Linked DNA regions of Homo sapiens: region 1 is reported to be linked to region 2. Evidence: microRNA targets listed by miRTarBase, many of them from high-throughput screens and not tested one by one. Region 2 holds a microRNA gene; the other region holds the end of a gene's coding sequence.

The links. The annotated mature microRNA hsa-miR-33b-3p reads CAGUGCCUCGGCAGUGCAGCCC and lies in region 2 at 1,528-1,549, shown strand. An mRNA with a match to its seed (bases 2 to 7 or 8) in the 3' UTR can be bound and repressed. Matches are read on the target gene's strand: a 7mer-m8 pairs with bases 2 to 8, a 7mer-A1 pairs with bases 2 to 7 and ends in A, and an 8mer does both.
Region 1: miRTarBase lists HMGA2 as a target of hsa-miR-33b-3p. The part of its 3' UTR that is shown has no 7-base or 8-base seed match.

The regions. Positions count from the first base shown.
Region 1 is chr12:65,962,441-65,966,816 of GRCh38, reverse strand. HMGA2 (high mobility group AT-hook 2) reads right to left here. Exons shown (of 5, transcript NM_003483.6): 5 at 526-3,572. The coding sequence ends at 3,525. Among named protein-coding and RNA genes, the nearest start is that of HMGA2-AS2, 16 kb to the right of the region's middle.
Region 2 is chr17:17,811,018-17,815,405 of GRCh38, reverse strand. MIR33B (microRNA 33b) reads left to right here and starts at 1,475; the gene lies at 1,475-1,570. RAI1 (retinoic acid induced 1) reads right to left here. Exons shown (of 6, transcript NM_030665.4): 6 at 3,953-4,388. SREBF1 (sterol regulatory element binding transcription factor 1) reads left to right here. Exons shown (of 19, transcript NM_004176.5): 13 at 77-185; 14 at 462-571; 15 at 659-791; 16 at 996-1,161; 17 at 1,637-1,837; 18 at 1,927-2,038; 19 at 2,555-4,072. The coding sequence ends at 2,784. It overlaps MIR6777 (microRNA 6777), which reads left to right and starts at 1,861; the gene lies at 1,861-1,926. RefSeq lists an enhancer at 2,091-2,649.

The sequences.
Region 1 (4,376 bases), not on the chromosome of region 2:
GAAACAAATTTCTCCTTCTAAGAAGCTAAATGAAGAAAATTTGAGTAACAACGGTGATAGTAAAAACCGAAAGTTTTAGCTTTTTAAAAATCCTAGATTTATTCATAATTAGCAACTTAAGTGTCAAGTTGACCTTGAACTTGGTAGAATCATTCTGACTCTGCTAGTAGTTTTTAGAGTTAAAAGGCTCCTATCTAGGAGACTCTTCGTGGCTTTCATTTCTTATTCATCAATCTTCCGGATCTCTTTCCAATGTTACTTCAAAGACGACTAGTGCATTAGTTACTTCCCTTACAAACTTTGTAGGTGCTAGCCTGAAGTAAAAATTCTGTAGTTTGGAGCTACAGCTTGTTCTTCATGTTTCTTCTAAGATTGTCTCTGTAGAATTAAATGTCAAAATCTGAAAGGCGAGCTCAGGGCAGTTGATTGAAGGAGTATGATATGTAAAACACACTTTATGTACATGTGTGCCAAGATGTGTGCAAGGGGTGCAACAAAATGACTTGTGAGTGTCTCCCTCCTTGATCTGTTTTGACCAAACTTTATTACTCATTTAATGGAACTGTAACAAAGAGCAGGAATCAAAACACATGGGGATCACAGAGGCTGTTATGTTTATTGTGCAGAACAGACAGTGATAATACACTAGAGAAATATTTTCAACAAGCAAGCGATTCAAAGTACAATCATAGACAGCAATTCTACATAAAGAACAAAGAATAAAGTTAGAAGACACTCAAAGGAACAGGGAGAAAGTCAACTGCAGTTAAACGTCTTGATACTTTTCTCCTGCAAACATACCTAACTTGCAGAAATGGTAGAAAAGTTAAATGTCCAGTCTTATGTAGCTGCGACCAACAACAGCAAAGAACAGTCCTATAAAATTTATCTCCCACAAAAATAAACTATATATATAAAAATTTTATGATGTTCTTACTGTTCCATTGGCCACAAGCTTTTTTTTTCAGTATGAAAAATGAGGTATACTGGGACTTAAGAGGTAGTAGTGTGTTTTGATTGTACAACATACAGGAAATAAAAGTGTAACTTTACCAGAGATGGAAATCACTCGGTGCACCATGTTTGGCCAACATGAGCAATTGCTTCCATTTTATGAGCTGGCCAATGAGGTTTCTAAAAGGCCCATCCAAAGATATGGAATGCGACTTTTATTTTTATGAGCCACTGTTTATTTGCTTATTTAACGCACAGTTAACAGTAATGTTGAGTTTTAATTCTCTCCATAGCTCCTTTGGTGATTCACAACAGTGAGCGATCTGCCAGTCTCAGAGAGGTATGTGGCCTTTGAAACTACCTCCCTGAAGCAGCTGGAAGAGAGATGGTTTTGAGTTTCATTTGGCTTCAGTACTAAAAGCCATACTGACAAAAGCCGTCATGAGAAACTACCTCCTGGCCCAGTTGATAATACCATGTTAAAAAGTCAGCACACTCACTAGGAGAGAAAGGCATAAAAACTCTACATAAGAAGCGTTTAAAATAAATCTGGTTGAGACATATTACAAAAATCACATTTGTGTAAAATACATGAAAATATTTGTCAAGCATTTTCTTATATTCAACTAATCTTAAAAACACATATTTTTGATTGCATTATGCAAAAGCAGGGCTTGTTGCATCTCACCTACAAAGCTTCAAGTTTCTTTGAAGGTTGGCTTTTATTTTATTTATTATTTACTTATTTTGCAAAAGTATGTAAAAACGTGTTCCTTTCTATCAAATGTCTTTTACAAAAATAGTTTTGACTAGGGTTAGCTGCAGTTTGAACTATTTCAAACATTGAAAAAACAAATGAATGCTGCAAGTAACAAGTTCATTCCTTTTGAAGTCTGGAGGTAGGTCTTTGCAAGTCAATTAGTCCATCTCCTTAAAGAATTCATTTGAGGTACAGACTTGGAGGGTAATATTTAAATATTACAGTCAAATCTTGTGTGATGTGTAGTGTGATTGAGGAAAATTATCCTTAAGAACCTAGGAGCGACTTGGTTAAAAAATTTTCAAGTTAATGTAGAAATCTAGCAGAGAAGCTGAAACAAGTATTTTAAAAATTTTTAATTAAAAAAACATAGAAAAATACATAGTCATGCTGAAACACAGTAAGGAGATTGCTTCTTTAACTGTAATTAAGTGTACAAAAAGAACTGCAGATGATTAGAATCACCTACCCAGTAAGTTTTTTTCTTGCATTGCTTGTGTATAGCAGCATGTAATAAGTACTAGACTGTAAATTCGTTGTAACATTCAGAGGTAGTATTGAGTAGTGGGGATATATTGCATCTCTGGCTAAAAGTGCAGTTTGAATGAAGAGATGGTGAACTCAAGCCGAAGAAAAGCACCTTGGTCAACCATCTTATGTCAAAACGTATTACTTGAAGTAACACATATGCTTAATTTGAGGTAAGTGGTATTCAGGTCTTTCATGGAAACTGATACACAATGAAAAGAGAGAGGGAGAGGAAGAGAGAGAGAGAAAGACACAGAGAGAGATTGCCCCCCCCTTTTTTTTTTTTGCTTTTTAAATTGATGTATAACTATAGCAAAAGAAATTTAGATTTCGCTCCTCCCACCTCATAATTAGGTGAGTTCATCATGCATTATTCTGTTGTACCTTTTCATTAAATTACAAAGAGGATAATTTTACTTGTCTAGTTTCCTTAAATGCTCTGAGGCTGACAAGTGTTATTTATTGCTAAATGGCATTTTGGCTCTGTAGGAAGTAGATTTCCTGAAAATGAAGTGTTGTCCTGAAAACAAGTGCTGTGAGTAAATTTATTACTCCTGCTGATATGTGTGATATCCATAAATAGAAGAGTTGGCAATATTTGTTTGCTTACTTCCCTTTTTGAAAAATGAACATAACCTTTTCTAGTTTGTTAGCTGAATGAAAGGATACATCAGCATTTCGTCTCATTTAGAAATAAAAAGTTAAAAATCATCAAGTAAGTGTCTACAAGATTATACGAAAAAGAGAAAGTAGTATCTAGTCCTTATCTTTGGTGTTCTAAACAGAGGATTCACTACAGGGAGTGGGTTGGGGTGGTATTTGAGGTGTACACAGTGTTACACACCGCGTTCTTCCTATATGAATGCCCGACGTCACAAGTGTGACACGTTTCTTGTTTGCATGCAGTGCAGTGATTGACTAAACCCAATTCGGTTTTTCTCACCCGCCCACTCTTGCTTATCAGATCAACAAACTATTAGTAGGTTAAGAAAAAAGAAAACAGTAATTAAAAGTTGCATTGTTAAGCTGTGTCCCCTGTGTTTACAGCAGTTTTTCACTAAACCTGGGACTGTGAAGGGATTACAAAGAAGGTGATTAATATAGTCCTTTTTAAGGTTATGTGATTTCTCCCCACCCCACCCCCCCCTCCCCCACCCCACCCCACCCCACCCCAGATGAAAGTGGAAAGACCATGGCAATACAGAATAAGTGGTCACTGCAGTGTCTTCTCCCTTCAAAAGATCCAACTGCTGCTGAGGTAGAAATCGAACGTTGGCGCCCCCTAGTCCTCTTCGGCAGACTCTTGTGAGGATGTCTCTTCAGTTTCCTCCTGGAACACACAAAGGGCACAGCCATGACGCTCAATCGTTATACTGTGTGGGCTGCTCTTGCCAACAGTGCAGAGGTAACCTGTTTCCACAGCACATTATGCTTGCCTCAAAAGAGGATGACGATGACTGGCGAGCCCTCATTCCCAGGGCTTCTTAAACCGTAATTGAGGAATCAAGGTGTTGTTTTTTCCCAGAGCGGTCATTAGCCACTGTTGACTTAAGGCTTGACATCATGGCGGCTGGTCAGCAAATTCAATTGTTTGCTGTCCAGAGAATGTCAGGGCAATGCACGCTTACTCACCAATTAGAAAAAAAGTAGGAATGGATAAATTTTTCCCGACAGCATGCCATTCATCAGTTTTAAAAACCGGCACACAAGAAAAATAGAGTTAGGGGGATCCTTTCTTAAGGTATAAATGAACCCACCCTCCAGATACTGGTAATAATAGCTGGTATTTTTAGAGTGCTTACCAGATGCTTAGGCACCTTCTGTTAATATTCCTGTTTTACATCTGAGAAAACCAAGGCACAGACAAGTAATGTGCCCAAAATTACAGGGTGTGTGGGACCAGGATTTGGGTCGGGTTGGTACTGGTGCCAACACCTGTGTGTGACCCCTACACCACTGTGCAGAGGCAGTGTGAGAGCAGGGGCAGAGCTGACAACGAGCCTTCCCAAATCCATTTCCTCCCCCTTGTATTTATTAAAGCACATTTTGAGACAGTGACCCAAGTTCGGCGTTAACTGCTCAATCTCAATACTAATCCGCATCGACCAAACATTTGATGGTGGGCTAGCCAAGC
Region 2 (4,388 bases):
CCCAGGAAAAAGCCCTTAGCTTGGAGAGGAGGGTGGGGCCCTGCTCCCCACCCCACTCACCTCCTCCTCTCCACAGTGGACCCCCTGGCCCAGGTGACTCAGCTATTCCGGGAACATCTCTTAGAGCGAGCACTGAACTGTGTGACCCAGCCCAACCCCAGCCCTGGGTCAGCTGATGGGGACAAGTAAGTGTCGTTGTGCCCTCCTCCAGGCAAGGCCCCTCCGGCGGGATTCTGAGAATAGCTCTGGCCTCAACCCTGTGGAGAGAGCCCAGAGCTGGGCTACCGTGCGTGCCATGCACGCTTCATTCCTCTCTGAGTTTCCTCTCCCCACCAGCCTGTGGGAGGAGACAGTGGCACTTTGCAGAGCCAGGGGCCAGGCTGTACTCTGGAGGGCAGGTGGGGAGCACCCTCCTAGGACCCCTGCCATCTGTTCCGACAGCCAGCTCTCTCCTTCCACAGGGAATTCTCGGATGCCCTCGGGTACCTGCAGCTGCTGAACAGCTGTTCTGATGCTGCGGGGGCTCCTGCCTACAGCTTCTCCATCAGTTCCAGCATGGCCACCACCACCGGTGAGTCCCCGGCCCCTGTCCTGGCTCCCTTCTCAGCTCCCCCGTGCAGCGTGACTGAGGGTTCAGGGGACCCTCCCTCTTCTGCAGGCGTAGACCCGGTGGCCAAGTGGTGGGCCTCTCTGACAGCTGTGGTGATCCACTGGCTGCGGCGGGATGAGGAGGCGGCTGAGCGGCTGTGCCCGCTGGTGGAGCACCTGCCCCGGGTGCTGCAGGAGTCTGAGTGAGTGCACGGCAGGTTCCTCCTGCCTGGTCCCGGGCTCAGCCTTCCTCATCCCCTGGGCACTGTGCCTCACTCAGCCTTTGTTCTGTGCAGGAGGAGTCACCACCTTTTTTCCTCAGGGAACTCGAGCCAGGGAAGTGGGGGGCACTCAGCCAGGGCTTGTGGACTGGTCTGACTGGCACTCTTCTGCCCTGGTCCCAACAGGAGACCCCTGCCCAGGGCAGCTCTGCACTCCTTCAAGGCTGCCCGGGCCCTGCTGGGCTGTGCCAAGGCAGAGTCTGGTCCAGCCAGCCTGACCATCTGTGAGAAGGCCAGTGGGTACCTGCAGGACAGCCTGGCTACCACACCAGCCAGCAGCTCCATTGACAAGGTGAGGGGTGGGGTCAGGGGCCTGGCAGGGCTGGGGGATTCAGCTTTCCATTCCCTGGTTCCTCTCCCCAGCCCCCAGGGGCTGCAGAAGACCATGGGGTTAGCCCAAGCAGCACAGGATAGGGGGTCCAGCAGACCCTGCTTTTTGGCTAAGGCTTCTGTCCAGAGGAGAGGGGTTGCCCCTATCTGGCCTCAGTTTCCCCATCCCTGGGAGGAGGGGGGTGGATGGTGTGGTAGGATCCCTTTGGAGGCCCTGCATCAGGAGGGCTGGACAGCTGCTCCCGGGCCGGTGGCGGGTGTGGGGGCCGAGAGAGGCGGGCGGCCCCGCGGTGCATTGCTGTTGCATTGCACGTGTGTGAGGCGGGTGCAGTGCCTCGGCAGTGCAGCCCGGAGCCGGCCCCTGGCACCACGGGCCCCCATCCTGCCCCTCCCAGAGCTGGAGCCCTGGTGACCCCTGCCCTGCCTGCCACCCCCAGGCCGTGCAGCTGTTCCTGTGTGACCTGCTTCTTGTGGTGCGCACCAGCCTGTGGCGGCAGCAGCAGCCCCCGGCCCCGGCCCCAGCAGCCCAGGGCACCAGCAGCAGGCCCCAGGCTTCCGCCCTTGAGCTGCGTGGCTTCCAACGGGACCTGAGCAGCCTGAGGCGGCTGGCACAGAGCTTCCGGCCCGCCATGCGGAGGGTGAGTGCCCGATGGCCCTGTCCTCAAGACGGGGAGTCAGGCAGTGGTGGAGATGGAGAGCCCTGAGCCTCCACTCTCCTGGCCCCCAGGTGTTCCTACATGAGGCCACGGCCCGGCTGATGGCGGGGGCCAGCCCCACACGGACACACCAGCTCCTCGACCGCAGTCTGAGGCGGCGGGCAGGCCCCGGTGGCAAAGGAGGTGAGGGGGCAGCTGCTGACCAGGGATGTGCTGTCTGCTCAGCAGGGAAGGGCGCACATGGGATGTGATACCAAGGGAGGCTGTGTGTGTGTCAGACGGGACAGACAGGCCTGGCGCAGTGGCTCACACCTAGCACTTTGGGAGGCTCAGTTGGGAGGACAGCTTGAGCCCAGGAGTTGGAGGCCGCAGTGAGCCTGAGTGACAGGGAGAGTCCCTGTCTCAAAAAAAAAAAAAGACCAAGCATCTTCTTGATGGTTACCTGATGACAATTCCTTTCACAAGGAATCAGTGGGGTGACTGTCATTTGTGGGATACATGACTGCACGTGCGTGACTCAGTCTGTGGACTTTGTGTGTGGGCTGAGACTAGGGTGGGGAGAGGGGAACCCGCCAGGCCCCCGCCAGGTACCTGTGTGCCAGGTACAGGCGGCTGGTGCCGTGGCTTGTGTGTGGGCAGGGCTCCCGCGGGGGCGTGGCCAGCTTGAGACCCATCCCTGACACATCCTCGTGTGCGCAGGCGCGGTGGCGGAGCTGGAGCCGCGGCCCACGCGGCGGGAGCACGCGGAGGCCTTGCTGCTGGCCTCCTGCTACCTGCCCCCCGGCTTCCTGTCGGCGCCCGGGCAGCGCGTGGGCATGCTGGCTGAGGCGGCGCGCACACTCGAGAAGCTTGGCGATCGCCGGCTGCTGCACGACTGTCAGCAGATGCTCATGCGCCTGGGCGGTGGGACCACTGTCACTTCCAGCTAGACCCCGTGTCCCCGGCCTCAGCACCCCTGTCTCTAGCCACTTTGGTCCCGTGCAGCTTCTGTCCTGCGTCGAAGCTTTGAAGGCCGAAGGCAGTGCAAGAGACTCTGGCCTCCACAGTTCGACCTGCGGCTGCTGTGTGCCTTCGCGGTGGAAGGCCCGAGGGGCGCGATCTTGACCCTAAGACCGGCGGCCATGATGGTGCTGACCTCTGGTGGCCGATCGGGGCACTGCAGGGGCCGAGCCATTTTGGGGGGCCCCCCTCCTTGCTCTGCAGGCACCTTAGTGGCTTTTTTCCTCCTGTGTACAGGGAAGAGAGGGGTACATTTCCCTGTGCTGACGGAAGCCAACTTGGCTTTCCCGGACTGCAAGCAGGGCTCTGCCCCAGAGGCCTCTCTCTCCGTCGTGGGAGAGAGACGTGTACATAGTGTAGGTCAGCGTGCTTAGCCTCCTGACCTGAGGCTCCTGTGCTACTTTGCCTTTTGCAAACTTTATTTTCATAGATTGAGAAGTTTTGTACAGAGAATTAAAAATGAAATTATTTATAATCTGGGTTTTGTGTCTTCAGCTGATGGATGTGCTGACTAGTGAGAGTGCTTGGGCCCTCCCCCAGCACCTAGGGAAAGGCTTCCCCTCCCCCTCCGGCCACAAGGTACACAACTTTTAACTTAGCTCTTCCCGATGTTTGTTTGTTAGTGGGAGGAGTGGGGAGGGCTGGCTGTATGGCCTCCAGCCTACCTGTTCCCCCTGCTCCCAGGGCACATGGTTGGGCTGTGTCAACCCTTAGGGCCTCCATGGGGTCAGTTGTCCCTTCTCACCTCCCAGCTCTGTCCCCATCAGGTCCCTGGGTGGCACGGGAGGATGGACTGACTTCCAGGACCTGTTGTGTGACAGGAGCTACAGCTTGGGTCTCCCTGCAAGAAGTCTGGCACGTCTCACCTCCCCCATCCCGGCCCCTGGTCATCTCACAGCAAAGAAGCCTCCTCCCTCCCGACCTGCCGCCACACTGGAGAGGGGGCACAGGGGCGGGGGAGGTTTCCTGTTCTGTGAAAGGCCGACTCCCTGACTCCATTCATGCCCCCCCCCCCAGCCCCTCCCTTCATTCCCATTCCCCAACCTAAAGCCTGGCCCGGCTCCCAGCTGAATCTGGTCGGAATCCACGGGCTGCAGATTTTCCAAAACAATCGTTGTATCTTTATTGACTTTTTTTTTTTTTTTTTTCTGAATGCAATGACTGTTTTTTACTCTTAAGGAAAATAAACATCTTTTAGAAACAGCTCGATACACACAATCTTCAGTGTGAAGCAATATACTAATAAGAACACTAGTCGTCTTAACATTTACAGTCTTCATATATATTATATATATGTATATGTATACATATATATACACTATATAACGAGGCCAGATATAATACACACGTTTACCATTTTACAGTCATATGTACAGGAAGTTGCTAGGGCGGCCCTGGGCTGGGGGCTGCGTCAGGCCTATCGAAGCGTGGACAGAGCTGAGGACACGGACGGACAGGCGGACGGACTGGCAGGGACTGGCCCGGGCCGGTGGTGGCTGCGTGGACAAGTGGCGTCGCGGTAGCCCCTTACCCG